Homo sapiens: one gene and its partners. The protein of the gene in region 4 purifies or fractionates together with the protein of the main gene of each other region. This does not show direct contact. Each region holds a gene or a part of one and is shown on either strand. Other genes may lie near its edges.

Evidence for each region.
Region 1: the proteins of CCT8 (region 4) and PDCL3 purify together in Homo sapiens (affinity purification with mass spectrometry; 3 studies listed by BioGRID and IntAct, with this or other methods). This does not show direct contact.
Region 2: the proteins of CCT8 (region 4) and PPP1CB purify together in Homo sapiens (affinity purification with mass spectrometry; 2 studies listed by BioGRID and IntAct, with this or other methods). This does not show direct contact.
Region 3: the proteins of CCT8 (region 4) and TLE2 purify together in Homo sapiens (affinity purification with mass spectrometry; 3 studies listed by BioGRID and IntAct, with this or other methods). This does not show direct contact.

What each region holds. Positions count from the first base shown.
Region 1 is NC_000002.12:100,572,502-100,577,239, reverse strand, and holds the end of PDCL3 (phosducin-like protein 3), read right to left. Parts: intron 887-4,738; coding exon 744-886; 3' UTR 501-743; downstream 1-500. UniProt on the Homo sapiens protein: Acts as a chaperone for the angiogenic VEGF receptor KDR/VEGFR2, increasing its abundance by inhibiting its ubiquitination and degradation.
Region 2 is NC_000002.12:28,753,975-28,762,321, reverse strand, and holds part of PPP1CB (serine/threonine-protein phosphatase PP1-beta catalytic subunit), read right to left. Parts: intron 1-8,347. UniProt on the Homo sapiens protein: Protein phosphatase that associates with over 200 regulatory proteins to form highly specific holoenzymes which dephosphorylate hundreds of biological targets.
Region 3 is NC_000019.10:3,011,554-3,019,900, forward strand, and holds part of TLE2 (transducin-like enhancer protein 2), read right to left. Parts: intron 8,221-8,347; coding exon 8,146-8,220; intron 7,914-8,145; coding exon of another isoform or gene 7,911-7,913; coding exon 7,730-7,910; intron 6,307-7,729; coding exon 6,287-6,306; intron 4,208-6,286; coding exon 4,100-4,207; intron 3,062-4,099; coding exon 3,017-3,061; intron 2,266-3,016; coding exon 2,116-2,265; intron 1-2,115.
Region 4 is NC_000021.9:29,070,064-29,079,140, forward strand, and holds the start of CCT8 (T-complex protein 1 subunit theta), read right to left. Parts: upstream 3,586-9,077; 5' UTR 3,528-3,585; coding exon 3,468-3,527; exon of another isoform or gene 1,892-3,467; coding exon of another isoform or gene 1,889-1,891; intron 275-1,888; coding exon 184-274; intron 1-183. UniProt on the Homo sapiens protein: Component of the chaperonin-containing T-complex (TRiC), a molecular chaperone complex that assists the folding of actin, tubulin and other proteins upon ATP hydrolysis.

The DNA of each region.
Region 1 (4,738 bases), on a different chromosome or scaffold from region 4:
CGTGATGGTGCACGTCTGTAATCCCAGCTCCTCAGGAGGCTGAGGCAGGAGAATTGCTTGAACCCGGGAGGTGGAGGTTGCAGTGAGCTGAGATTGTGCCACTGCACTCCAGCCTCAGCAACACAGAAAAGCTCCATCTCAAAAAAAAAAAAAAATTAGTTAACAGTCTGAGATAAACTATTTTAACAAGAAAACACATTTAACCAAATATGGCAGTAAACTGGAAACTTTCAGTTATTGCTTCAATAAGGGAATGTTTCACAAAAATTGTCTGTTTCTTCAATACTAACATTCTTTTGTCCTAGAGACCATTCCTGTAGTTTAATAATCTCACTGCTCTCTTTATAAAATAAAAATAAACAATGTATCTATAAGGCTTAGTCTGCAATTTTCCACTGTATAATTTATTCACATTTAAAACTGTATTTCTTTTTATAGTTATATGTCAAAAAATAGTGACTAGGTTTTATGGCTTACTTAAAATATAAATGAGGAAAACAGACATTTGCCATACAAATGGCTGGTTTTAATTTTTTTTAGAGGAAATACTATAATTTAAAAAAAAAAAGAGTTCCAAAATATTTAACAGAATCTCCAGCAATGATTATTTCCAAAATGTAAAGATTTGAAACATAATTTATACAAAACTAAAAACCACAAGGATTCATTCTTGCTTTTTCCTTTTTTAAAAAATCCAGACAATTTGTCACAAGAAAGTTCGGCATGTGATAGAAGCTGTAGCCTCAGTCACCCTCGGAATCGCTGTCCCTCTTCATGAGGACAGAGCGCCGCACTGAGGACAGCAACACGTCTTCAATCGGCTTCTTAGGGTTTTCCTCCAGGTCTGTCATAATTGCTCCAGATTCAGACAGTTTCCATTCCAACTCTATATGGTAAAGAAAAAGCAAATTGCCTAAGGCACTGTGCTGCAAAGGTTCCCTCGCCCTAAGTCCATCAACCTAGTTTTTTCTAAGTAGAAAATACAATTATCGAAATTTGGCCCAGCACAATGGCTCACGCCTGTAATCCCAACACTTTGGGAGGCTGAGGCAGGAGGATCACCTGAGCCTGGGAGGTAGAGGTTGCAGACATTTAAGATCACACCACTGCACTCCAGCCTGGGCAGCAGTGAGACTGTCTCAACAATAAAAATAAAAGTAAATAAAACATAAAAATTCACTGGGTACAGTGGTGGTGTGTGCTTATAATCCCAGCTGTTTGGGAGGCTGAAGTGGCAGGATCGCTTGAGCCCAGGAGTTCAAGGCTGCAGTGAACCATGATCATGTCACTGCACTCCAGCCTACACGACAGAGCGAGACCCTGTCTCAAAAATACAAAGAATAAACCTATCCTCTGATGACTACAATTTCCCAGGAAGGAAATCAGCATGAAAAATTTGAAGGAAATAATTTCCACAGACCTTCTGGCAATCTAATCATTAAATCCAATTTTAATAAACTCTTCAGCCTCATGTCCAGTATCTCAATCTATTGGGGTCAAAGAATAAATGTATGGTGATACCCTAGAACTTACACATTTGTTCCAACTAATCAAAAAAGCACCAGATAATAAAGAATCAGTAACTGAAGACTCAGCTCCAATACTTCACTCTTAAAATCAGCAAAATTCTTGTGGTCTGAGACCAAGTGAAGCAAAATCAAGTGATGTATTTGCCTACTTCAGAGAAGAGCCCAGGCAGAACCAAAGGACTACGTAAGAGATTCTACAACAAATGGCTTCGCTTAAAGGAACATCAAGGCAGAGAGTTCTGCTAACTGGACACATCGATTAAAATCTGAAAACCAGGCCGGGCGCGGTGGCACATGCCTGTAATCCCAGCACTTTGGGAGGCCAAGGTGGGCGGATCACGAAGTCTGGAGATCGAGACCATCCTGGCTAACACGGTGAAACCCCGTCTCTACTAAAAATACAAAAAATTAGCCAGGCATGGTGGCAGGTGCCTGTAGTCCCAGCTACTCGGGAGGCTGAGGCTGGAGAATGGTGTGAACGTGGGAGGCGGAGCTTGCAGTGAGCCGAGATCGCGCCATTGCACTCCAGCCTGGGCGACACAGCGAGACTGTCTCAAAATAAAAAAAATCTGAAAACCAATTTTACTGAAGTCTTATCTTAATCTACTTTTTTGGAGACAGGCTCTCACTCCATCACCCAGGCTAGAGTGCTATGGGTGCAATCATAGCTCACTGTAACCTTGAACTCCTGGGTTCAAATGATCCTCCCGCCCATCTCCCTAGCAGCTGAGACTACAGGTGTGCACCACCACACCTGGCTACTTTCTTTTTTGTAGACATGGGATCTCGCTATGTTGCCCAGGCTGGTCTCAAACTCCTGGCCTCATGCAATCCTCCAGCCTTAGCTTCCCAACATGCTAGGATTACAGGCTTCAGCCAACGTGCTCAGTTGAATTTTACTTATTAACTTAAAGTGTTCCATGAAACAGAGAATAGAATGGTGGTTATCAGGGGAGGAGTGGAAATGGGAGATGTTGGCCAAGGATACAAACTTTCAGTTATAAGATGGTAAGTTCTGAAGACCTAATGTAGAACATGGTAACTACAGTGAATAATAACGTATTGTATACTTGAAATTTGCTAGGAAAGTAGATCTTAAGGATTCTCACCACAGTGAGGGCAGCTATGTGAAATGATGGATGGTTAATTACTTGGATTGTGGTAATCATTTCACATTGTACCTCTATTAAATCTCCATGTTGTATATCTTAAATATATTCAATTGTTTTGGTCATCATACCTCAGTCATGCTGGGTAAAAAAAAAAAAAGTGTTCCACGAAGATGAGTAACACCAGTATTTTCGGCTCTAGGTACTTTGGTTGAATGTTATATAAATTCAACCTGTTTCTTAAAAAAAAAAAAAAACAAGACTTCAGATTCCTGACTCAAGAATTTATATCCAGCCAGATGTGGTGGCTCAGGCCTGTGATCCCAGAACTTTGGGAGGCTGAGGCAGGTGGATCACTTATCACTTGAGGTCAGGAGTTCACAACCAGCCTAGGCAACACGGTGAAACCGTCTCTACTAAAAATACAAAACTTAGCCAGGCATGGTGGCACATGCCTGTAGTCCCAGCTACTCAGGAGGCTGAGGCACGAGAATTGCTTGAACCCGGGAGGCTGAGGCTGGAGTGAGCCAAGATAGTGCTACTGCACTCCAGCCTGGGTGACAGAGCAAGACCCTGTCTCAAAAATTAAAAAAATATATATATCTCTCTCTATATATATATCTTTATATATCCACACATACGTACATAAGTGTTTAATGTTACTGTTCACTTACACAAAGCAATCGTTATATGTAAGTTCACTAGACTTCAAGACTTTTTTTTAGAAATAAAAACAATTGCACACTTCTCTCTCCCCTCATGGTACATTCAAAAAAGGTCAAAATAAGATGCAAACATGTATTTAGTTTGAAATGCTGTACGCCTTTGAACACTGGAATATGTAACTGATGTATCTCCTATATGTGTGTGTTTATGTATGTTTGTATATTTATACTTTCCCCAGCTGAATATCTTTTTTTTTTTTTTTTTGAGATAGAGTTTCGCTCGTTACCCAGGCTGGAGTGCAATGGCATGATCTTGGCTCACTGCAACCTCTGCCTCCCAGGTCAAGTGATTCTCCTGCCTCAGCCTCCGAGTAGCTGGAATTATAAGTGCCCGCCACCACGCCCAGCTAATTTTTTGTATTTTCAGTAGAGACAGGGTTTCACTATGTTGGCCAGGCTGGTTTCCAACTCCTGACCTCAGGCAATCCACCCGCCTTGGCCTCCCAAAGTGCTGGGATTACAGGCATGAGCCACCGCACCCGGCCGCCAGATGAGTATCTTAGTGGTACAGTATATAAAGTCATGTTTAAAAATGTCTTTCTGGTAAAGCATAGTTGGAAATATTATTTCAATAAAGAGATAAAGAGTTTCACTTGGCAAGAATGCCTCTGGGCTGAGGTTCTCCTTCACGTTCTGTGTGGGTATGTATTTTGATACCTCCATGTTTAACAGGTAGAAAGGAATTTAAAAACACAGCCGGGCGCGGTGGCTCACATCTGTAATCTCAGCACTTTGGGAGGCTGTGGCGGGCAGATCACGAGGTCAGGAGTTCAAGACCAGCCTGGCCAACATGGTGAAAACCTGTCCCTACTAAAAATACAAAAATTAGCCAAGCGTGGTGGTGGGCGCCTGTAATCCCAGCTACCTGAGACGCTGAGGCAGGAGAATTGCTTGAAACCAGAAGGTGGAGGTTCCAGTGAACCAAGATCGCACCACTGCACTCCAGCCTGAGCGAAAGAGCAAAACTCCATCTCAAAAAAACAAACAATCAAACAAAAACCACATCCTTCCGAGCTAACAGGCAGAATTAAATAAAATTTTAATTTAATTTAAAAGCTGGCCAGGCGCAGTGGCTCACGCCTGTAATCCCAGCACTTTGGGAGGCTGAGGCGGGTGGATCACCTGAGGTCAGGAGTTTGAGACCAGCCTGACCACATGGAGAAACCCTGTCTCTACTAAAAATACAAAAAAATTAGCCAGGCATGTTGGCACATGCCTGTAATCCCAGCTACTAGGGAGGCTGAGGCAGGAGAATCACTTGAACCTGGGGGGCAGAGGTTGCAGTGAGCCGAGATCACGTGATTGCACTCCAGCCTGGGCAAGAAGAGTGAAACTCTGTCTCAAAAAAAATAAATAAAAGCTACTAGCCGGGCGC
Region 2 (8,347 bases), on a different chromosome or scaffold from region 4:
TTGCTACTTAAAGAACAGATATTTATTTATTTATTTAGAGACACAGTCTCACTCTGTCGCCCAGGCTGGAGTGCAGTGGCGCAATCTCAGCTCACTGCAACCTCTGCCTCCCAGATTCAAGCAATTCTTGTGCCTCAGCCTCCCAAGTAGCTGGGAATACAGGCATGTGACATCACGCCCAGCTAACTTTTTTATATTTTTAGGAGATGGGGTTTCACCATGTTGCCCAGGCTGGTCTTGAACTCCTGGCCTCAAGCAATTCCACCCGCCTCGGCCTCCCAAAGTGCTGAGATTACACGTGTGAGCTACCATGCCCGGCCGAGAACAGAAATTTTTAAATTCTCAGTTTTAACTTCTAATGCAATATTGTTAAATACCTCACATAAATAAAAGCTCGTTTTCAATTCTTTACATATATGGAGAATTTGAGTGTAAGAGGGTCTCAAGACTCAAAGTTTAAGATACACTGCCCTATAGTTCCTGGCCAAAAGCAAGCATACAACAGTGTTAAATCACTTTTCACCATTTTATCCTACCTAGAAATACCTTTCCCTCTCAGCACCAACACTGATATGTCAAACCAGATTATAAACGCTGAATAATGGGAATAGTAAAGAAACTGTTATACGTACTTACATACAAGAATAGTGGTTATATGCAATAAACAGAAAGTGGAGGAAACAGTATCTGTCACATACTTACAAGAAAGCCTTCTCAAAATTAGTATGGGGAAGTTCCAGGACTCAGTGGCACAAAGAGCTCTCTGTTAGTATTTCCTAGCTCAGGTTTGTACTAAGCAATAATGACGGCTAACATTTTCTGACCTTTAATGTGTCAAGAATTGTTTGAAGGCACTTACTATCATATATGCAGAAGAAACTGGGGCTGAAATACACCCAGAATCTGTGTCGTTAATCATTATATAAGATGGCATCCCAATGTATCAATACTTATTAATATTTGAGTAAACACTTAACTGAGTAAACATCTGATTATCATTCAGGATTCACATAATTCTAGTAGTTGGGAGTCCGAAATTCACAAAAGCTATTCCTTTCTGTCATCTAAAATCAGACCTCACTCTTTCTCACTGACAGGTTTGCAAGTTTCTCCCCCTCAGAAGTCTGGTCTCGGCCGGGCGCGGTGGCTCACCCCAGTAATCCCAGCAATTTGGGAGGCCAAGGTGGGCAAATCACAAGGTCAGGTGTTCGAGATTTAGTGAAATCCCATCTCTACTACTAAAAATACAGAAAATTAGCTGGGCATGGTGGCAGGCGCCTGTAATCCCAGCTACTCAGGAGGCTGAGGCAGGAGAATCGCTAGAACCCAGGAGGCGGAGGCTGCAGTGAGCCGAGACTGCACCACTGCACTCCAGCCTGGACAACAGTGTGAGACTCCATCTCGGAAAAAAGAAAAGGTCTGGTCTTTTTGTCTCGCTAGTTTGGCTCAAGTATTTGATAGTAATTTAAATAAAACGCTCAATTCAAACCACATTGAGGAAACATACAAGTACCTATAAAGATTCCTTCTTAATTTACTATTTAAAGTTTTAAAATACGTGATTACAACTGCTAGATATGACATTAGTGAAAGCTATGTAACACCCAATATACCTAACCTTTTATTATGAAAACTTAGATTTTGATTTCTCCAAATCTTGAGAATGAGAGGTAGGACTAGGGGGAAGGTTAAAATGGTGTCAGACAAGTCCAGTTATGCATCATTTACCAAAGGGAAACTTCCTGAGAGATGCACAGTGAGGTGATTTTGTTGTTGTGCAAACATCACAGAGTGGACTTACACAAACCTAGATGGTATAGTCTATTGCTCTTAGGCTACAAAGCATGATGCACAGTATGTTACTGTACTGAATACTGCAGGCTACTGTAACACAATGTGCTTGTATATCTAAACATATCTAAACACAGAAAAGGCACAATGTATATACAGTAATAAAGATAAAAATATTTTTCTTTCTTCAAGAATAAATTAACCTTTGCTTACTTAACATTTTTTACTTTAGAAACTTAAAAAAATTTTTAAACATTTTGAATTTTCTAGTAACGATTAGCTTAAAACAAAAGCATATCATACAGCTGTACAATATTTTCTTTATATCCTTATCCTATTAAGCCTTTTCCTATTTTTAAAAATATTTTTCACTTTTTAAACTTTTGTTAAAAACTAAGCCATATACACACACATTAGCCTAGGCCTACAGAGTCAGGATCATCAGTAACACTATATTCCGCCTCCACATCTTCACTGGAAGGTCTTCAGGGGCAGTAACATGCATGGAGCCATCACCTCCCAGGATAACGAAGCTTTTTTTCCTGGAATGCCACCTGAAGGACATGCCTGAGTCGGTTTTAACTAGTTTTTTAAAATAAGAATATATTCCAGGGCCCTGCGTAGTGACTCAAGCCTGTAATCCCAACACTTTGGGAGGCCGAGGCAGGCGGATCACCTGAGGTCGGGAGATCAATACCATCCTGGCTAACACGGTGAAACCCCGTCTCTACTAAAAATACAAAAAATTAGCCAGGTGTGGTGGTGCACGCCTATAATCCCAGCTACTCAGGAGGCTGAGGCAGGAGAATCACTTGAACCTGAGAGGCAGAGGTTGTGGTGAACTGAGATCGCGTCACTGCACTCCAGCCTGGGCAACAAGAGCGAAACTCTGTCTCAAAAAAAAGAAAAAAAAAAGGTAAATATATAACATAGCTGTTTATTACCATTATCAAGTATTATGTACTCTATATAATTGTGTTATACTTTTTTTTTTTTTTTTTTTTTTTTTTGGAGATGCAGTCTCACTCTTTCGCCCAGGCTGGAGAGCAGTGGTGCAATCTTTGCTCACTGCAACCTCCACCTCCCAGGTTCAAGTGATTCTCCTGCCTCAGCCTCCTGAGTAACTGGGATTACAGGCATATGCATGCCACCAAGCCCAGCTAATTTTTGTATTTTTAGTAGAGATGGGGTTTCACCATGTTGGCCAGGCTGGTCTCGAACTCCTGACCTCAAGTGGTCCACCTGCCTTGGCCTCCCAAAGTGCTGGGACTACAGGCATGAGCCACCACGCGTGGCCTGTTGTACTTTTACACAACTGGCAGTGCAATAGGTTTACACCAGCACTACCACAAACAAGAGTAATGCATTGCACTATGACATTATGCCTATGATGTCACTAAGTGACAGGAATTTCTCAGTTCCATTCTAATCTTACAGGACCACTAACTACCTTACATGAAGTCCACTGTTGACCAAAACATCATTTGACAGAACATATGACTATACTCAAACCAAGAAAGTGTTTTGGTCACCTTGCAACTGACCAGATGGGAACTTCTGTTACTTAGGGATATTCTGATTAACATTCTTAGAATAAAATTCCTTTATGGTGAAATATGCTATGTTAAAACCTCCCAATTATGCAAGGGTGGGCATGCATCAAAAAGCAAACGCTATTCCCTCTGGGATATGCACATATCATCAATATCTCCACTTGTCTTTGCACAGATGCAGGTAAATTTGGCAAGGGAGGGTTCTGAGGCCAGTGATGTTCACGAAGGTTATACATACTCTCACAAATCACTGTGCTCCACATGTGAATAGTGCAGAGGCAGAATAAAGGACAACTGCCCCCGCCCTTTTTCCTACTGTATGACAAGTACCCATCTAGACCAAGGACTGACTTCCTCTATCAAATCAGGAAAAAACTGGCTACTGGTTATTTATACTTGAATAAGCCTTGAAATGGCTATTTAAAGCTGCTAGAAGCAGTGGCTGCTGCCTAAGGGTATCAATCTGTATCCAATCACAAATCCTAGAAGACTCCACTGGGAATCCCCATCTACCACACCACTGCTAAACCTACTGACATTTACAAACTATTTCTTCCCCTTGCCTCCCTATATGCCACCAACATTCGAGAATAACCTTTCAGAAATACATAACAGAATTTAAGTCAGTATTTCTAAGAATCTTAACATTCCTTCATACCTGTATTACTTTACCTGTTAGAAATGTTTGAAAATGGGGCTGGGTGCCTGTAATCCCAGAACTCTGAGACTGGCCTGGGCAACAAAGTAAGATTCTGTGTCTACCAATTTTTTTTAATTAGTGGTGCATGCCTGTGGTCCCAGCTACTTGTGAGGCTGAGGTAGAAGGATCACTTGAGCCCAGAAGGTTGAGGCTGCAGGTGAGCCATGTTCATGCCACTGCACTCCAACCGGGTGACAGAGCCAGACCCTGCCTCCAAAAAAAAAAAAAATTAATTAAAAAAAATTAAAAATGCATGGCATTGGAATGTATACTCTTTTAAAAGTAATAAACGTGGAGAATAAGGAAGAAAAAGACCTACTAGATGCAACTATCTTCCCCACTAATCCTGACTCTTAATGTGGCTTTGTCTCTAGACTCAATTTAAATAATGTATTAAATCCCAACGAATCTTCATCTTGGATTTAGATATTTACCAGAAAAGCTCCAGGTCTGCATTCAGATAGCAAAATAAAAACACCTCTGGGCTACTTCTTCAAACTGTCAGTTTCCCTTACTTGCTGAACTTAATTCAGAGAAAACAAACACCTAATCTCTGAATCAGTTAAAAAATATGCCACGACCTTATGTCTCCTCTAGTATCTCATCCAGAAGAATCAAGGAGATAAAATATTCCTCGGGTGATCTCCCCCACTCCCCAACATGCTCTTTTTTCTAACAAGTCTAGCTGCACATCCACACAAAACACCTTCCCTACAGAAGTGGAGGTTGTCGGCAACAACTGACACTTCTTTCCAACCACCTAACCTTTAGGTTGCTGGGTCAGAATTAAACAATTTAATCAGTAAAGAGGCCTTAAACAACCTGGCAGCTCATCAAAAAGTTAAACATAGGGCTACCATATGACCTAGAAATCTCACTCCCAGCTATATACCCAACGGAATTGAAAGTATATGCCCACAAAAAAAAACTTCTACACAAATGTTGATAGCAGCACTACAAGTATTCACAATAGCCGAAAGAAAACAAAATGTCCATCAACTGATGAATGAATTAAAAATGTGGTGTATACATACAATGGAATATTATTCAGCCATAAAAGGAATAAAGTACTGATACATACTACAACAAAGATGAATGTTAAAAACATTAAAAGAAACCAGTCACAAAAGACAACATATTGTATGATTTCACTTGCATGAAACGTCCAGAATAGGCAAATCTAAGAGACAAAAAAAAGTAGATTAGTGGGGGCCGGGAGGGAATGGAGAGAAATGGGGTGTCTGCTACCGGGAACAGGGTTTTTTGGGGGGTATATGTGTTTGAAAATATTATACAGTTCACTGTGGTGATGGCTGCACAACTCTATAGTATACTAAAAATCATATCCTCTAAATAGGCAAACTGTATGGTATGTGAATTATATCTGGATAAAGCTGTCATTTTAAAATGGAGGGCTTTAATATGCTTTCATTAATCGATTTCATTTTTCAAATCCATTCATTTTTTTTAACCTTCAAAAGGACACTACAGGCTGGGCGCAGCACCTCGCACCTGTAATCCCAACACTTTGGGAAGCCAAGGCTGGAGGATTGCTTGAGCACAAGGGTTCAAGACCAGACTGGGCAACCAACATAGGGAGACCCCGTCTCTACCAAAATAAAAAAAATTAGCCAGCCAAGGTGTCATGTGCCTGTGGTCCCATCCACTAGGGAGGTTGAGGCAGAAGGATCGATTGAGACCAGGAAGTCGAGGCTGCAGTGAGCCATGATCAAGCCACTGCATTCCAGCCTGTCTTGAATAGGAAAAGTTAAAAGTGTAGTCTGTCAGCCTAACTAAATCTTAAGAGTACTATACCTGTTTCACAAGAAAGAAAAGGGAGATACGCACTAAGAGATCACAAGCAGTGTCACAAATTCAGACATCTGACAGGTCAAAGTTAAATGAAAAATGAATTTAAAAAACAAAACAGGTACAAACACATCCCACGATTTTCATAAAACTGTAAGTGGGCCAAAAATGTAACACAATCACATTTTGCTATGGAACTTTACACAGTGCTAATATTCTACAACTCATATTGTAATAGTCAAGTTCAGCTTCGTGGTAATATGTTAAAAAATACTTTAAGAAAAACTTTTCTATCACACAGCAAATCGCTTTTCGGTATTTTTGAAGACATTTCAATGACAAGGGAAAATGTTCATGATGTAATACTACATGAAAAATTAACTCATAAAGCTATGTAAAGAATATTCTAATGATGTAAAGCATGTGAATTTTACAAAGTATGTTAAGTATCTTTAAACAAAAATATATCAAAATTTCAACAACGGTTATCTCTGGATTGTGGAATTACAGGGGACTTCTTGAAAGAATGCTGCCCTTTCATAATCAGGAAAAAGCAAATTCTAAACAGTTTCATATTATCACATATATGACACATAATAGACATACTATATCAACTGGCACATCCCAGTTTTTAAATACCTGGATCAAGACTGTGGTTGGGAACAGAGCTGGCACTCTTATTCACCCAGCAGCAGTTTTCCATACTAACCTCCTCCCAAATGCATTAGATTCTACTCATTCCACTTCACTTCCTCCAAAATAAACTTAGCACTTATAGTTTGAATGAAGTTCCCCAGATGATTCTGCTATACTCCCATTTCCCACCCCTCTTTGAGAACCACTCATCTAAGTAAGAAGCTTTTACCGGATTTTCCAGAATACTCATACAAACTAGCTTCAATTTAAATGATCAAAACACTATGGTAAGCCACAAGAATGTGGCCAACAGGGTCACTACAGGGGATAAAGTAGAAGTCTTTGGTTTTTAGTTCTAAGCAAAAGTTAATCCAAGAAAACATACCGAAAGAATATGCACCGTCCAAATAATAAAATCAATATTTCTGTTTTACATTAAATGGCATGTTTGTATTAAAATGACCTAAAGGACTCTTTGAAAATATCATATCAAGGTCAGGCGCGGTGGCACATGCCTGTAATCCCAGCACTTTGGGAGGCCGAGGCGGGTGGATCACTTGAGGATGGAAAGTTCGAGACCAGCCAGGCCAACATGGTGAAACTACTAAAAATACAAAATTAGCCGGGGCGTGGTGGCATGCTGTAGTCCCAGCTACTTGGGAAGCTGAGGCAGAATAATCGCTTGGACCTGCAGGGGCAGAGGTTGCAGTGAGCCAACATCACCCCACCGCACTCCAGCCTGGGTGACAAGCGCAAAACTCCGTCTCAAAAAAACAAAAAACAAAAAAAACTTATCAATAATACGCCCACCTAAAAAAGAAAAACAAAAAGCAACTCATAAAATGTAGTCACCAGAAGTGTGTATAGCTGATCTGCGATTTAATACAGTAAAAAAGAAAAAACAATCAGGAATATGTTGTGGGGCTACAATCAGCATTTTAAAATGAGATCAGGTCCTGCTGAATGTTTTCCCCTAATGCAGAGAAATTCTTGCCAAATTTTTACTTACACGTTCATTTGACACTAAAAACACTAACCATAGTTATTCTTGCTAGGCAGCTTTACAAAATATCACTAACTAGCATCTAATATCACTGAAAATCCAGGTGGACAAAATTTTCTTTGAAGATTAAAAATAATTATTTACTAGAAAATTCAAGTCTGCTCTGGACAAGTCTTTCAACAGGTCTGGATCTGGGAAGGAGCTGAAAAACCTAGAATATTTAAGAATCCCTTGGGGGCACTGTCAAACTAAATATGCTTCTGTAGGATGAAGAAGTACTGATAGAATGTGTGCTGAACATAGGACAGAGAGGAGGCTGAAAAAGCCTGAAAGACACTTGTTTAGACTGGGAGCTCCTTGAGTGAAGAGACTGTGTCTTATCTTAGGATTGCTGGTGCCTGGCAAGGAGGAGGTCAACTTGTTAACGCTTGCTAAATTAAGAGAGAAACGTATCTGGACTACAATTCTTACCCGCCCCCCCCCCGCCCCCCCAAAAAAGGAAAACAGATTGTACAAACCAAATATTTAATTTGAATTCACAAAAACAAATGGAATCACTTATTTTTCCCCCAGTGTCTTTTCTAGTAACCTTGCACAACCCACTCGTGAAGTTTAAGTACCTGTAATCATATAAAGGTGCGTCTAATTTAAAAGGATACAAACATTTTAAAACATAAATCTGTTTTATGCCTACAAAATATATGGAAAATGAAATAAAATATAAATAAATTGAGATACAAACATATTTTTAAAATATTTAAATTTACAAGCAAAGTTTAAAATATATAAAAATATGCCGGGCGCGATGGCTCACGCCTGTAATCCCAGCCCTTTGGGAGGCTGAAGCGGGTGGAT
Region 3 (8,347 bases), on a different chromosome or scaffold from region 4:
TCAAAACAACAACAGGCCAGGCGCAGTGGCTCACGCCTGTAATCCCACCACTTTGGGAGGCCGAGGCCGGTGGATCACTTGAGGTCAGGAGTTTGAGGCCAGCCTGGCGAACATGGTGAAAACCCCATCTCTACTAAAAATACAAAATTAGCTGGACGTGGTGGCGCATGCCTGTAATTCCAGCTACTTGGGAGGCTAAGGCAGGAGAATTGCTTGAACCCGGGAGGCAGAGGTTGCAGTGAGCCGAGATCACGCCATTGCACTCTAGCCTGGGCAACAAAAGCAAAACTCTACAAAAACAAAAAACAAAACAAAAAAAAGGCAACAAAGTTACAAAGTTATAGGCTGTCAAGATTTGCAATTCTTTTTTTTTTTAATACAGGGTCTTGCTCTCAAAACTAACATGATCAGACAGGCGCTGTGGCTCACGCCTGTAATCCCAGCACTTTAGGAGGCCAAGGTGGGCGGATCACCTGAGATCAGGAGATCTAGACCATCCTGGCTAACACAGTGAAACCTCGTCTCTACTAAAAATACAAAAAATTAGCCAGGCGTGGTGGCACGTGCCTGTAGTCCCAGCTACCCACTACCCGGGAGGCTGAGGCAGGAGAATCTCTTGAACCTGGGAGGCAGTGGTTGCAGTGAGCCAAGATTGCGCCACCACACTCCTCCCTGGGTGACAGAGCGAGACTCCATCTCCAAAACGAAAAACAAACAAAAGGCACGATCATAGCTCACTGCAGCCTCAACCTCCCATGCTCGAGTGATCCTCCCGACTGAGCCTCCCAAGTAGCTGGCACTACAGGCACACGACTCCATGCCCGGCTAACTTTTTAAATTTTTCATAGAGACAAGGTCTCACTATGTTGCCCAGGCTGGTCTCCAACTCCTGTTCTCGAGTGATCGTCCTGCCTTGGCCTCCCAAAGCCCTGGGATGACAGGGATGAGCCACAGCACCCAGCCACTGTTGAGATTCTTGAACAACAAGGAATTAGAAACTCCGGGATGGGCTCGTGGAGAGGCAGACCCCACAGCGGCATATTCCCAGGTGAAGGAAGAGTGCCTAGCACACACTGCAATCCTCCTTGAGCCCCCACAGAGAGGGAGGTGTCACCCAGAGCTGTCCCTCCCCAAGGAGAGCTCTGAGGAAAGCAGCAGCTGGACCTCCATCTAGGGGCAGGCTCTGTTATCTCGGCTTCATGTCATCGCCTCCCCTGCCTCCCCTGCCTCCCAAGAAACTTCGCATCCTTGTCTTGCGTCTGTCTCGGCTTCCCATGACACCATCGCACAAACAGTGACAGCCACGCAACACCGGCACCCGCGAGAGAGTGGATGGGACGACTGTGGGGTCAGGGAGGACCCCTGAGGGCTTCTCCAATACAACGGAGCTGACCCATCCCCTTGTAAGGTTTTTCCCGCAGTGGGAGGTGGGCACTTAAGATGGAATGGGAGCCCCAACCTCTGGCGGTTGCCATGGTAACCTGCCAGGAAGGGAGGCCTTGAAACCGGGAGGGGAGGCCTAGAAACCGACATACTCTTCCCTGGTAAGTGTAGGGGAGGGGTCTGGAGAAGATTTGGGGTGAGGGGAGCTGCAAAAGGAGCTGAATTTCTAATGCCCTGGGGGTGCTTTTAGATGGCTCACATGCCTGGCATTAAACTCCAGGAGGTCCAACTGAAAACTTGTTCCTATATTAATTATCTTTCCTTCCGGGGACAACATCTCAGCTTGGGGCCGGTGTGTCTCTAAGCGCCTCTGGAAGGGCTCAACACATGCAGGCCTGAGTCCAGCCTAGCTGGCTGGGCTTTCACTATGTTTATTTCCATGGGATTTCCTATTGATTGCAAGAGAGAGACCTGCTTTCCATGTAAGGTAGTGAATTGCCTTTTAAAATTTATCTACAAAGCTTCTTTACAAAGTTGCCTTTTAATATTTACTGAGGTTCAACAAAGTCAGTCCAAGCAGGAGGTTTAAAAAAAAAAGCACAGGGAAAGGGTGGACAATGCCAGCCCGGCTGGCTGATTTCTCATCACTGCCCTCTGCATCATGGGGTAGCGTCTGCTTCGGGGCCCCCGGGATGAATAAAGTGAGTTTCAAGGCCCTCCCCTCCTCCTTACCAGGATGAGCTCCTTGGCTCTAGGCAGCGGTGAGCCAAGGCTAGAGGCCAAGGAGGCTGGACTGTCCACCAGGTCCCGACGGGCAGGAATGCAGATGGGTACCTTTCCGCAGGGGGTGGTAGCCGGGCTGGGGGGCTCTGAGGGTTGGTCCTGGGTTTGAGGAGGTGACGTTGAGCAGAGTTGAAATGAGAGGGAAAGAAGAGTCCCTTCTCTATCCTCCTCCCGACTCCCACCCCAATCTCTAGAATGGGTACCCATGACCCACCATGGGAAGATTATGAAATCTTCTGCTGCCTCAGTTTACTCATCTGTAAAATGTATTTTTTTTTTTTTTGAGTCTCGCTCCGTTACCCAGGCTGGAGTAATGGCCCACTGCAACCTCCGCCTCCTGGGTTCAAGCGAGCACATCCAGCTAATTTTTTTGTATTTTTAGTAGAGACAAGGTTTCACCATGTTGGTCAGGCTGGTCTCAAACTCCTGACCTCAAGTGATCCATTCGCCTCAGCCTCCCAAAGTGCTGGGATCACAGGTGTGAGCCACCACGCCCGGCCTGTAAAATGGGTTTAATGATAGGCTCTACTCCATAAGCACCCATAGCGAGGACTATATAAAGGCTTGGTTTTATTTTCCCATTGAACAGATGGGGAAAAGTGAGGCCAGGGAAGGGGGTGTCACTGCCCACAAATCACTCAGTGAACCTGGGCTTGAAGTCACTCCCTGTGCAGTGGAGAGGAGGTCGGCCAGAGGTGTCCCGGAGTCCCTGACGCTTCCTGACCCCATCCCAGCTGTCCCACAGAGCGGGGAACCAGGATCCCCACTACCTCTGGGTCCTCCCAGTCCAGAAAACCCACCCCTTGCTCTGTGCCCAGAGTCGGGGAAGAGGCTGGACCCCTGGACTCACCTCGTCCACCACCAGATTGTAATCACTCTTGTCTTCGTCGCTTTCCTGGGGGAAGATGGGGGAGAGAGCTCATTGTGGTCATGCCCCTGCCTCCACACCCCCTATCCGCTCCTCAGGAGTTGGAGGCATGAGCCCAGCCAGCCCTGGGGCATGACTGGGATTCTCAGACCACTGCACCCGTTTGCTCATAGCAGAAGGGAAGGCTGCACGTGCCCGCATCCGGGAAGGATGTGGGGAGGCAGGGCAGGTGGGCACCTTGTGGAGAGGACTTTGAAGGATGTGGACTACATGAGTGCCCTGTGTGACTCCCGGCCCTCTCAGGCCTCAGTTTACCCCTCTGCATGGTGAGGGGAGAGCCAGAGACCAGCAATCATCCTTACCGCCTTCATAAAGACTCCGCCTTAATAAATAAATAAATAAAATTCATTGCCAAAGAAAATAAGACTCCACCTTAATAAATAAATAAATAAATAAATAAAATTCATTGCCAAAAAAAAAAAAAAAAAGCTATTAGGTAAAAAGGAAGATTTAAGGCTTCTCTGAGAAACAGCAATATTGGCCCACCCTGAGCCTGCCAGTCTCCGGGGATCAAGTTGCAGCTGCCCCTGTAGGTGGGAGAAGGGGCTCCCCAGCTGGCCACAGCCCCATTCCCCACATTCGGCCTGGCCCCTGGGATGCTAGAGTTGGAAACTACAAGTGTGCAGCCGTCTGGCAATGAGAGGAGGTCCCAGCCTCTAGGAGGTGGTCAGGGAAGGCTTCTTGTAGGAGGTGGCACTTTGTTTCTTGATAGAAAAATGGGTTTCTAAAACATGTGTGTTCTAGGGAAAGAAAACAGCTGGAGCAAAAGCTAGAGGGTGGGAAAATGGCTGTACGGCCAAGAGGCCGCAGAGACTTCAAGCAACTGGAGTTAAGCCTTGCATTACAGGATCTCCTCTGATTGGTCAGTACTCTGAGTAGTAGGGAGCTATGGGAGGCTCCGGAGTGAGAGAATTATGGCCAGAGCTGGGCTCTGGAAGGCTCTGAGGGGCCAGGCTGGTCTGGGCCATGCACGCCCATCCCAGTCCTGCACCTGCCCCCACTCACATAAGGTCCTGATGGCTCCTTCTCATCTGCTCTCTGCTTCCCGCCACCACCAGGGCCACTCGGTCGCTCCTCCTCCACGAGACTCTCAGGGGGCGAGGGAGATGCACTCTGCGGAGAGACAAAGGCCGGGGGGAGAAAGGGTCAGGGCCCTGGGCTCCTAGATTGCATTGTGATCCAGCCGAGACTGAGGGTCCCCCACCATTATTAGGGTCCGGACCTCAAGCTTCCCATCTGGGAAATGGGAGCTTCCAACGGCTGACTCAGTGCTAAGGTTTTGTTCTCTCTTCTGTTTTGTTTTGTTTTTGACGGAGTCTTGCTCTGCTGCCCAGGCTGGAGTGCAGTGGAGCCATCTCGGCCCACTGAGACCCCCGCCTCCCGGGTTCAAGCGATCCTCCTGCCTCAGCCTCCCCAGTAGCTGGGATTACAGGCGCCACCACCACGCCCAGCTAATTTTTGTATTTTTAATAGAGACAGGGTTTCGCCATGTTGGCCAGGCCTATCTCGAACTCCTGACCTCAGGTGATCCACCTGCCTCGGCCTCCCAAAGTGCTGGGATTACAGGCATGAGCCACCGCAACCAGCGCCTTACTTCTTCTGCAACCTCTCTGACATCTATAATTATTTCAAAATTAAACCATTTTGGCCGGGCGCAGTGGCTCACGCCTATAATCCCAGCACTTTGGGAGGCCGAGGCGGGCGGATCACAAGGTCAGGAGATTGAGACCATCCTGGCTAACACGGTGAAACCCCGTCTCTACTAAAAATACAAAAAAAAAAAAAAAAAAAAATTAGCCGGGCATGGTGGCGGGCACTTGTAGTCCCAGCTACTTGGGAGACTGAGGCAGGAGAATCACTTGAACCCAGGAGGCGGAGCTTACAGTGAGCCGAGATTGCACCACTGCGCTCCAGCCTGGGCGACAGGGCAAGACTCAGTCTCAAAAAAAAAAAAAAAAAATTAAACCATTTTTTGAAAAACTTACTGACACAGCTCACATGACATTTCTGTTGGGGAGCACCCACAGATATTGCTGAACGGCTGATGGCTAGGCGAACGGAAGTGAGGATGGGAAGAAGGGTCCAAGGTCATGCATTCATTTATTTAATTACCCGAAAAAAGCTGGAGGTTGAAATTTTTTTTTCTTTTGAGATGGAGTCTCGCTCTGTCGCCCAAGCTGGAGTGCAGTGGCGCAATCTCGGCTCACTGCAACCTCCGCCTCCCGGGTTCACGCCATTCTTCTGCCTCAGCCTCCAGAGTAGCTGGGATTACAGGCGCCCACCACCACACCCAGCTAATTTTGTATTTTTAGTAGAGATATGGTTTCGCCATGTTGGCCAAGCTGGTCTCGAACTCCTGACCTCAAGTGATCCACCCACCTTGGCCTCCCAAAGTACTGGGGTTTTAAACACTACAGCCTTCTGGGTATCTCCCACACAGAAAGGCTTCAGGAAACCGGGCTATGGATCTTGTTTTTTTATTGTTGTGGTTGCTGTTGTTTGTTTTTTGAGACAGAGTCTCATACTGTCGCACAGGCTGGAGTGCGGTGGTGCAATCTCGGCTCACTGCAACCTCTGTCTCCCAGGTCCAAGTGATTCTCCTGCCTTGACCTCCCGAGTAGCTGGGATTACAGGCACCCGCCGCCACGTTTGGCTAATTTTTGAATTTTTAGTAGAGACAGGGTTTTGCCATGTTGGCCAGGCTGCTTTTGAACTCCTGGCCTCAAGTGATCTGCCCACCTTGGCCTCCCAAAGTGCTGGGATTACAGGCACGCACCTGGCCTGGTTTTTTTTTTTCTTTCTTTCTTTTTTTTTTTTTTTTGAGACAGGGTCTTACTCTGTCACCCAGGTTGGAGTGCAGTGGCACGATCACAGCTCCCTTCAGCCTTGGCCTTCTGGGCTCAAGTGATCCTCCCACCTCAGGCTCCCGAGTAGCTGACACAACAGGCATGGACCACCACACCCAGCCAACTTTTTGTATTTTTCTGTAGAGACGGGGTTTTGCCATGTTGCTCAGCTGGTCTCAAACTCCTGGCCTCAAATGATTCTCCTACCTCTGCCTACCAAAGTGCTGGGATCAAAGGCGTGAGCCACCATGATCGACCTAGGTCTCATTCTGAGGCCCCCATCAGCTCAGAACCAGCGTTGGCCTCCCAAGAATATAAAAAGAGTCCCAGGGTGCCACTCACTTACCCTGCTCGGGGCTCTCTCCACTGACAGATTGGGAATGGGATAAAGAGAAAGAAGGAGAAAGAATGAGGCGTTTGTATCCACGGCGCCAGAGGGTACAGCCCTCCAGTTTATAAAGCCCCCCGCCCCCACCACCCCACTCAGAGTCTCTCTACCCTTCCAACACCCTTGCAAGTGGTGGATTATCCCTCCCCTGCATTCAGATCAATGCCCAGAGAGGGATAGTGACTTGCCTCAAGACACACAGCCCATTGGGGGTGATGTTGAACCCCAGGGCCTTGCAGCCGCTCTCATTGATCCCCTCACACTTTACGAGTTGGGGTCTTGCTCTGTTGCCCAGGCTGGAGTGCAGTGGCCCAGTCACAGTTCACTGCAGCCTCGAGTTCCCGGGCTCAAGTGATTGTCCCATCTCAGCCTCCCGAGTAGCTGGGACTCCAGGGGCATGCCACCATGCTTGGCATTTATTTATTTATTTATTTATTTATGAATGAGACAGAGTCTCACTCTGTCGCCCAGGCTGGACTTGGCTCACTGCAACCTCTGCCTCCCAGGTTCAAGCAATTCTCTTGCCTCAGCCTCCCGAGTAGCTCAGATTACAGGCACCCACCACCATGCCCAGCTAATTTTTGTATTTTTAGTAGAGACAAGGTTTCACCACGTTGACCAGGCTGGTCTCAAACTCCTGACCTCAGGTGATCTGCCCGCCTCGGTCTCCCAGAGTGCTGGGATTACAGGCGTGAACCACCGTGCCTGGCTATCTATTTTTATTTATTTATTTATTTATTTTAATTTTTTTGAGACAGAGTCTCACTCTCTCACTCAGGCTGGAGTACAGTGGCACAATCTTGGCTCACTGCAACCTCCGCCTCCCAGGTTCAAGCGATTCTCCTGCCTCAGCCTCCCGAGTAGCTGAGATTACAGGCACCCGCCACCACTCCTGCCTAATTTTTTTTGTATTTTTAGTAGAGATGGGGTTTTCCCATGTTGGCCAGGCTGCTCTCGAACTCCTGGCCTCAGGTGATCCAGCCACCTCGGCCTCCCAAAGTGCTGGGATTACAGGCATAAGCCACCATGCCCAGCCTGTGCTTGACTAATTTTTAAATTTTTCATAGAGATGGCGTCTTGCTATGTTGCTTGGGCTGGCCTCTAACTCCCGGCCTCAAGTGATCCTCCTGCCTCGGCCTCCTAAGTACCTGGGAATACAGGTGTGCACCATCCCACCCAGCAAATTTTTAAATTTTTGTAGAGACGGGGTCTCGCTCTGTTGCCCAGGCTGGTCATGAACTCCTGGGCTCAAGCGATCCTCCCGCCTCGGCCTCCCAAATTGTTGGGATTATAGGCATGAGCCACTTCATCCCCTCACGCTGATGTTTGCTACCCTGGACTGCCAGTCGTCCTCCCCAGCCCCGTCTCCCCAGCCAATGCCACCCCGTGCTGCCCACTCACCTCTGGACCCCTCGGCCTCCACGCCCGCACGGTCCTCCTTGACAGCCGCCGCCAGCTGAGCCTGGGCAGCCAGGGCTCCAGACAGAGCAAGCAGCCCCGTAGCACTGCCGCCCACCAGCCCGGCTGGGCGGGGGGTGAGGGGCACAGGGGGTGCGTGGTGGGACAGCGGCTGGAGCTGCTGCTGCTAGAAAGGAGGCAGGATGGGCCGGGGCGGGGGGCGGCAGGAGCCCAGCGGTCCCCAGCCCAAGAGGTAGACACAGGGGATGGGACCTAAGCACAGCATGTGCCCCTGGGGTTCCCAGGACCACTGGAGCCAAGGCCCACACACCACCCCAGCTTTAACACCTCCTGGGTGGGTGCCAGGGACCTGGGAGTGGGCGTCTCCCCATGGCGGGGCAGGGGCTAGAGAGACTCACCCCGATGAGGCTGTTCAGCTCCCCCACGGTGACCTGCTTGGCGCGTTCTACGGCCTGGAGCACCTGCTGCTGATGCTGGCGGGTGGAAGGGATCAGGTAGAGGGTACATTGAGCCCCTGCTCATGCTAGCGGTGCCCTTGGGGACCTGACCTCTCCCCGCCACCCTCTCATCTTTGCCCCGGTACTTCCCATTTCTCTTTTA
Region 4 (9,077 bases):
TTTTCTAAAGAGATGTGAGTTGATTGAAAATTAGAAATAACTAAAAATTGGAAATGAACTATCATTGAGCTATCAAATTAACTTCCGAAGTCATACCATAACATCCTCAGAACAAGTCTGAAAGAAGACGTAGTACACAATATTCTACTACTGTATCTTTACAAATATTAATTTAGAAATTACCATTTGGTCCATATGCTGTACGAGTGGTTTGGGCAAGCTCCTTGCAAGCTTGTATGTTTCTATACACAGCCTCTTCTAATCCTGAAAAGTGCTGTTAAAAAAAACAAACAAAAAACCCCGCTAATTAGACAGGACAGTGAAACAAAAATTTCAAATACAAGATATCTTTGCTTATATCTTGCCTCTAATAAAGAGGGAGCATAGCTTAGGTATTTGGCACAAGAGGGCTGGTTGCAAATCTTAGCTTTCTGGCTCTTTTTAAATTTGGGCAATTTTCTTAACATTTCTTCATTATAAAATGAAGTAATTATAATAGTACCTAACTCATAGGATTGTTGAGACAATCAAACAAGATTTTTTAATGTAAAACACAGCATTTGATATTCATAAATGATGCATACATTTCCTCTCTAGTTGAATGAATAAAGTATAACATTTTGGGGGACCGCAGGTACCTACTTACACATCAAAAGACTTAAAATTTTTTTTATTAAAAGTAGTGAAAAGTACAGGGAACCATGCTAAGACTAATTAGAGAAAGGGTATGAGGTACTTCAAGTAGAATACCTTTCCAGAATTTATCAGTATTTTCTAACTAACTGTTGAAATGTGGAATATTCTTATTGTGTTAGAATCTGGGCTTTTGTAAAGCCAGAAGTTCTTTAAGTATGTGCCACTGAAGTGTTTAGAGACTGAATACTTTTTTTGAATTGCAACATTATCCCAATGTATATGTATTGAAAAGCGAACTGCTCACGGTACTAAAAATTCTCACAAATTCTACACTGGACTTTTTTAGAGTTGAGGTTTACTTGGGTCCTCAGATATATTTCACTAATCTACTGTGCATGAGAACATTTCTTTAGAGAAGCGCTGCCCAATACAGTAGCCACTAGCTACATACATGGGGCTAGTGAAAGCAATCAAAATAAACTTTCAAGTAATTAAAATTAAAAAATTCAGTTCCTCAATTGCAGGAGCCACAGTTCAAATGCCCAGTAGCTACATGTGGGTAGTGAATATCACACTGGACAGCGCTGATACAGCGTATGTCCAGCACTGCAAAAAGTTCTATTTACATAGTACTGCTTTACAATACAAGCCATGATTTTGTGATCCAAAACCAAGGTTAATAGCCATTACTCTTTTTTGAGAGAGAGAGAGTCTCCTCTATCGCTCAGGCTGGAGTGCAGTGAGCTGAGATCGTGGCACGATCTCAGCTCACTGCAACCTGGGCCTCCCGGGTTCAAGCAATTCTGGAGGCTCAGCCTCCTGAGTAGCTGGGATTAGAGGTGCGCGCCACACCAGGTTGGTTTTTTTTGTATTTTTTTGAGAGGCGGAGTTTCACCATGTTGGCCAGGAACTCCTGGCCTCAAGTGATCCACTGACCTCGGCCTCCCCAGTGTTGGGATTACAGGTGTGAGCCACCAACCCCTGCCAATAGCCACTGCTTTAAAAGCATCTTCAGCAATAAGAACTGTTATTCCAGCAATAACACTTAAGTCTGAACTCCTGGCTTACACTCTTGCTTCTTCCCCTCACTCCCCATTCTGTGAGAAACTACCATTTGATCAGATCCCCTCATTCCCATACTTAAGACCCTTCAATGGTTTCCCAACCAGCTTAGGATAAAATGCAAATCCCTTTTCAAGGAAACAAGGCCCTACGTATCCCGGCCCTTGTATGGCTCCTCCTCTGAACTTACCATTCTTCCTTTCTTTGGTAAGCTTCAGCCCTACAACCTGTTGTTGTTGTTGTTGTTTTAAAAAAAAAACAGGTCAAAATCATTCCTTCCTCAGGGTCTTTGTACTAGTTAGTCCCTGAGCCTGGCATTTCCCCCTAAGTAAGAGGTCGGGGGAAACAGCCCAGGCTCAGGGGCTTCTCTCACTAAGCACTGAGCTAAGAGTTCTTCCCTAAACGTCTAAGTGTTCTGTCTATTCCTGATCCTTCTTTTACAGACATTTTTACCTCCTGTCATCCTCTACTATAGTGCAGTTTCTTTCATCATTATTTGGAATTCTCCTTTTATTTAATCATTATTTCTGCCTTAGAAGGACATAAACTCTACGACAAATGGGACTTTTGTCTTTCACTGCAGTTCCTTCAGTACCTATTTATTGAAAGAAATAGCTCAGTGTTCTGTAAAAAACTACTAGCACTGGAATGACAAATAATGTTTTGTGATACACGAGTTTTCCAAAACTGTATTAGTGAAAAAAACCCAAATTGGAAGCTATTATCTCAGCCTGATTTTTTCAAGGGAATCAGCCCATATCATTTTCAAAAGATTATTCCACCAACATTTACCTTGAACCCTGACATTTACTTACTATACCGACATTATTTGAAAAGTGCATCCTACAAACATGAACCTAGTTCTATTAAACTGTTAATGCTCCCCGTACCTCGCATAAAACCTTAAATTCAACCACACTGATCTATTTCTTGAATTAACAAAATCTGGAGGACACACAGAGGAATGCAATTTGAATAGCACAAGAGACAAATTTATCAATAGTGCAGTAAGATATTTTTTAAAACTATGCTACCGAACTAACGTTCAAGAAAAGGCCATTAAACAAAAGTGTTATCTGCACCCCTCTATCACTTATCCTGCAGATTACACAGAACTCAAAGACACCACCTCTTGGTCCAATCTCCATAATTTAAAGACGAAGGAAACAAAACCCAAGAAAGTTACATTTTAGATTAAGCCAGCTAACATAAGTTGGGACCGGAACTCATTTGGCTACAACGCATGGCTTCTGTCAACTAAGCTGAAAGCCGTATGTTTCTCACTGGGAAGCAAGCAACCAAGACCCGGCCCTTTTTCCCACTCTCTTCTCTGGATCGGCTAGTTCTCGTTCTTCCCCATCCTACAACTCGCGAGCTATGTGATAATCGACGTCGCAGTTCTCAAGACAATTTCATCTACGTTATTCAATTTCACCCTCACAACCTCCTTTAAGGGTGACGGGCCTTAGCCCCATTTACGGATGGAGGCAAAACGCACGCGCGGCTTCACATCCGTCCACCTTCAAGGTGTACAATGTCGATCGTGCCGCCGATCCCTCGGCCTTCTCCCGGTCGCGGAAGAAGAGAAGTGCCCGCAGGCTCCGGTGGCCGAGCCCTTCCAAAATCACCTCCCTTTCTGGAATCTTCTCTTCCCCCGGCCGCTGAGCCAGGGCAGCACGCTCAGCCCGTTAGTAGGCCCTCCTACTTCGCCGCGGCCGCCGCAGCCCTATGCTGACGCTCCCACCTCATTCCTTTCCTTCAGCCCTTACTTTCGCTCCCTCCTTGAGCATCTGGGCAAAGCCCGGAGCCTTGGGAACGTGAAGCGCCATGGCCAGCCTGCAGGAAGCAGTTCACGCGACCGCTCGGAAGACCGCGGAGGAAGCGAGGAGCACGCACAGCCTTCTGGGAAAGCAGCGTGGGGCCGCCTCACGCTCTTCCTGGCTCTCCAATTAGCCCACCCTTTCCCTGCCGCCAGGTCTGAAGCATCGCGAGAAGAGCAACCTCTGTGGCCAGAACCAAGCTGACGATCCCCGATCGGGTCGATCGATAGGGCGGGCCCAGGGAGCCCCTCGGGTTTCTGGCTCACGCACGCGCAGACAGCCCAGGCCGTGAGAGGTTGCTCCAGTCTGTGCTCTCTGACCGTAGTCAGTAGTCACGGCGTTAGATTTTTGCGGTTTTTGATCTGGAAGCCACACATCCTTAGCTTAATTTCCACGTATCTTCCAGACCCAGCCACCAACGTCAGGGCAGGTGTGCTTTTTTTTTCCCGAGGCAGAGCATCTGCCCCATCCCCCAAAATTGTCTCTAGGCGTCCGCTCTGTGTTGGGCACCATAGGAAGCGCTGGGAATGCGCACGATAATTAAAGTCGTCACTAAGAGTAATGTAGTACACATCAAGTGCTCAAGTGTGCCATATTCTGTGTGATCTGCTTTACATGCAGTATCTCTGTTAATGGTCAGTCTTAAAAATTAATGAATTGTCGGTTAAAATACCATTTAGTTTTCCTTCCATAAAATGGAGACGATACCATTAAAAATTAAAAATTAAATGGTACTGTCTCTATTTTGTAGAAGGGAAACTGAAGTTCACAAACTGTAAATAATTTTCCCAAGATCACAGAGCTAGTAAATATTAAAGCTAGAATTCCTATCTAGATCAGACTTATTGCAAAATGCCGGTTCTTAACCACTATCTATATTCCTCTTTTCTACTTCTTCCTGGGAATATAAATCCCTTTTACTCTTTTAAGATCAGATATAAATACATATTTATTTATCTGATTTATATATATAATATACACATTTTATATAAATATATCTGATTTATATATGAATTTATAGATAAATATAAATCCCTTTGGCTTGGTGGCATGCACCTGTAGTCTCAGCTGCTTGGGAGGCTAAGGTTGGAGGATCTGCTTGAGCCTGGGAGGTTGAGGCAGCAGTGAGCTGAGATCATGCCACTGCACTCCAGCCTGGGCAAGAGTGAGGCCCTGTCTCAAAAAAAAAAAAAAATTGCAAAAATGTAAATGCCACTGATATGGTTTGGATTTTTGCAAAAATGTAAATGCCACTGATATGTTTGAATTGCCTGCCCAAATATGATGTGGAATTATAATCCCCAGCTGTTCTTGTGATAGTGAGTGACTTCTCATAAGACCTGGTTGTTTAAAAGTGTGTGGCACCTCCCCACTCTGTCTCTTCCTCCTCCTCCAGCCTTGTAGGATGTGTCTGCTTCCCCTTCACCTTCCACCTTGATTGTCAGCTTCCTGAGGCTTCCCCAGCCATGCTTCCTGTACCGCCTGTGGAACTGTGAGCCAATTAAACCTCTTTTCTTTATAAATTACCCAGTCTCAGGTAGTTCTTTATAGCGATTCGAGAACGGACTAATACAGCCACCCTTTTCATTCTTGGAAAATAGAGATATTTTAAATAAAAACATACATATTATCATGTGATAGGATTATTATTTTTTAAATAACGTTAAAAATTTATCAGTTTTAATTTCTAATATAGCAAATATTCATACCTATAACCCACATAAACAAAAGACCTTTGGGGAAGTTAATTTTTAAGAGTCTAAAGGTGTTCTGAGACTGATACGTTAGAGAACTACTGTAATGATCAGTCCCGAACAACAGAACAATCCAAGATTTTTCCTGGATTAGCTAAGAAATAAACAAAAGCACATTCCTCTGACTCAGAGATAATATTACTTATAAAAATAGCTAACACAAAATAAAATTGAAATAAAACTGAAAGGAGCTAAAATGACACCTGATTAACATATTAATATATATTAATCTATATTTAAAGTGACTTTGAGGCCTAGGTTCTGGTCCTTGTCTCACTGGTATCTTCTCCATTTGGCATTAATGTCTTGTATTCTGGCCCCAGTACCTGGAATAGTTCGTGCTGTCTGCTTTACCACTTCTGCCTCAGGGTCTTTGCCTCTGCTGTTCTTCCTACCTAAAATGCTCTTCTATTCCCTTATGGCTGAATTAATTCTACCTCAGTATGCAGACACTTTCATTAGAAAGTCTTTGATGACTCCCAAGACATTCCCTGTTTGTCATTCTCATAGCTTCTGTGTTTCTCCTTCATAGCACTTACCACAGTTGTAATGACAGAATTATTTGTCATCTTTCTCCACCAGCAGGTAGGTGGTGAATCACCAGCACTTATACTGTAATTGGACAATGCACGGAGTAAGGAGTCAATAAATCATCATCAAATGAACTACTGGGTGACCAAATGGATATCCAGAAGAGGAGATCGAAGAATTAAGGTGCTGTGGTCTCAATGTTTGTGTCCCTCCAAAATTCATGTTAAAATCTTAGGCCCTGAAGTGATGGTATTACGTAGGGCCTTTTGGGAGATGATTAGTTCATTAGGTCTCCACCCTTATAAAAGATTAGCGCTCTTATGAAAGAGGCCCAGGGGAGCTTATTTGCCTTTCCACCATGTGCTGACACAGCTAGAAGGTACTATCTATGAACCAGGAAGCAGGCCCTCACCAGACACTGTATCTGCTAGCACCTTGATCTCGGACTTCCAGCCTCACGAACTGTGAGTAACACATTTCTACCGTTTCTAAGCCACCCAGTTTGTAGTATTTTGTTATAGTGTGTCTGGAATTGGTGGGTTCTTGGTCTGACTGACTTCAAGAATGAAGCCGTGGACCCTCGTGGTGAGTGTTACAGTTCTTAAAGGCGGCGTGTCCGGAGTGTGTTCCTTCTGATATTCGGATGTGTTCGGAGTTTCTTCCTTCTGGCAGGCTCGTGGTCTCGCTGGCTCAGGAGTGAAGCTGCGAACCTTCGCAGTGAGTGTTACAGCTCTTAAGGCACGTCTGGAGTTGTTTGTTCCTCCCAGTGGGTTTGTGGTCTCGCTGGCTTCAGGAGTGAAGCTGCAGACCTTTGCAGTGAGTGTTACAGCTCATAAAGGCAGTGAGGACCCAAAGAGTGAGCAGCAGCAGGATTTATTGCAAAGAAAAAAAAAGCTCCCACAGTGTGGAAGGGGACCCAATCGGGTTGCCACTGCTGGCTCTGGCAGCCTGCTTTCATTCTCTTATCTGGCCCCGCCCACATCCTGCTGATTGGTAGAGCCCAGTGGTCTGTTTTGACAGGGCGCTGATTGGTGTGTTTACAATCCCTGAGCTAGACACACAGGTTCTCCATGTCTCCACCAGAGTAGCTAGATACGGAGTGTCGATTGGTGCATTCACAAACCCTGAGCTAGACACAGGGTGCTGATTGATGTGTTTACAAACCTTGAGCTAGATACAGAGTGCCGATTGGTGTATTTACAATCCCTTAGCTAGACGTAAAGGTTCTCCACGTCCGCACCAGACTCAGGAGCCCAGCTGGCTTCACCCAGTGGATCACGCACTAGGGCTACAGGTGGAGCTGCTTGCCAGTCCGCCGCCGTGAGCCCACACTCCTCAGCCCTTGGGTGGTTGATGGGACTGGGCGCTGTGGAGCAGCGGGCGGCGCTCGTCGCGGAGGCTCGGGCATGGCGGGCTGCAGGTCCCTAGCCCTGCCCTGCAGGAAGACAGCTAAGGCCAGGCGAGAAATTGAGCACGGCAGCTGCTGGCCCAGGTGCTAAGCCCCTCAACTGCCCGGGGCCGGTGGGGCCGGCAGGCGGCTCCGAGTTGCGAGGTCCGCGGGGCCCACGCCCACCCGGAACTCACGCTGGCCCGCAAGCACCGCGCGCAGCCCCGGTTCCTGCCCGCACCTCTCCCTCCACACCTCCCCGCAAGCTGAGGGAGCCGGCTCCGGCCTCGGCCAGCCCAGGAAGGCGCTCCCACAGCGCAGTGGTGGGCTGAAGGGCTCCTCAAGTGCCGCCAAAGTGGGAGCCCAGGCAGAGGAGGCGCCGAGAGCGAGGGAGGGCTGTGAGGACTGCCAGCACGCTGTCACCTCTCAATAGCAGCCCAAACAGATTAAGACATGGGAGGTATGGTCTCTATTCTTACCATCCAGACGTATGTGAAGTAAAACCAGAGAACAACACAAAGCAATCAAGAGGGTTTTTGCGCAGAGTTTGCAAAACGCCAAGGAGACTGTAGGTTTCTGTTATAGTGATTCAAAAGCCTGGGATCCTCATGTTAGGTGCTGCCTGAAAACATGGCCTCCAGCCTCCAGGAGAGCTAAAAGCCGTGAGGATTGGGGGTTGGGGATGTCTGAGCCATCTTAGGATTCTGATAAGGACTCAGTTCACTATTTGTTTCTAGTTACTTTGTTTCTGTTTTTTTCATTTTTTGTTTGTGTTAAAGTTTTAACCCCTGTACGTCAGAATTGTTTAATGTTTTTGGCTTGTCTATGTGTTTTGATTTTTTTTGTATTATTATTTAATTTTCCCAATTCCCATTAAATCCTTAACCTCCTGACTTTTCTTTTTCTGCCTCCATTTGTATTGTTTATTTCATGTTACTATATCATCTTATGTTTCAGTATTTTTCTGTTGAATTTTAATTCTTTTGTTTGGCTTTGGAGTCTGACTCATTTTGTGTTGGCTCATTATTTTGCTTCAGGATATTTTTGTTGTTGTTAAAATCTTTTAATATTCCTTTATAAATTTAAATTTTTTTCTCTTTTAATCGAATTTATTTGGGCTTAAGAGGGCACAATAATTTATACCCTTATTCACTTTCTGAGTTTGGAAACAACCAAGAAAATAGAGGGGTCAGGAGGCTGGAATTCAGAGTCTCGCTGGACTACAGAGAACGTGGCTTAGGGTGAAAGCACAGGCATGCTGGGCATCATTGCTGCTTTGCACTGATCAGAGAAGGAGAGACTTTAAATGGGTTAACTCCATGCAATCAAGAAAGGTAGCCCCATGTCAATCCCTTACCAGTGAGGTAACTTCCAATGTGGGTCAGAAGGAGTGGATTGAGAGGCCGAGAACTGGGGGTAACCAAAAGAGTAAGACTAAACAATACTCTCCTCTCAATATAATTGTTACTTTTGTTCATCTCCCTGTAAACCTCCCTCCCACTCTTCTGCCTTTTATCTATGGAGTGGGGATGAGGTTGAGGGGAGACTCGGCCTACGACTACCATGTTGGTCCCACAGCTCCACTTAGTTTCTGTCAAGCACACATGAGACAAGGCATGGCTAAGGTAAAGTCCTGACTGATTCGACTGGTAAAGATGCAAGGACACTTTTTTAGAATCAGACCGTTTATTCATTACATAGATGACAAAAGGAAGACTAGCCAAATGTGCCAACTCCTTGAGGTCATTGTTCTGCTCATCAAAAAGAATGACACTGAAACCAAAGGGACTTGGAGATTGCAATGCGAGTTGGGTAATGCAGCTCGGTGGTTTTGTGTTCTGCCACTCTATTAAGAGAGGGTGAAGCAGGAAGACCCACGTCTCATCA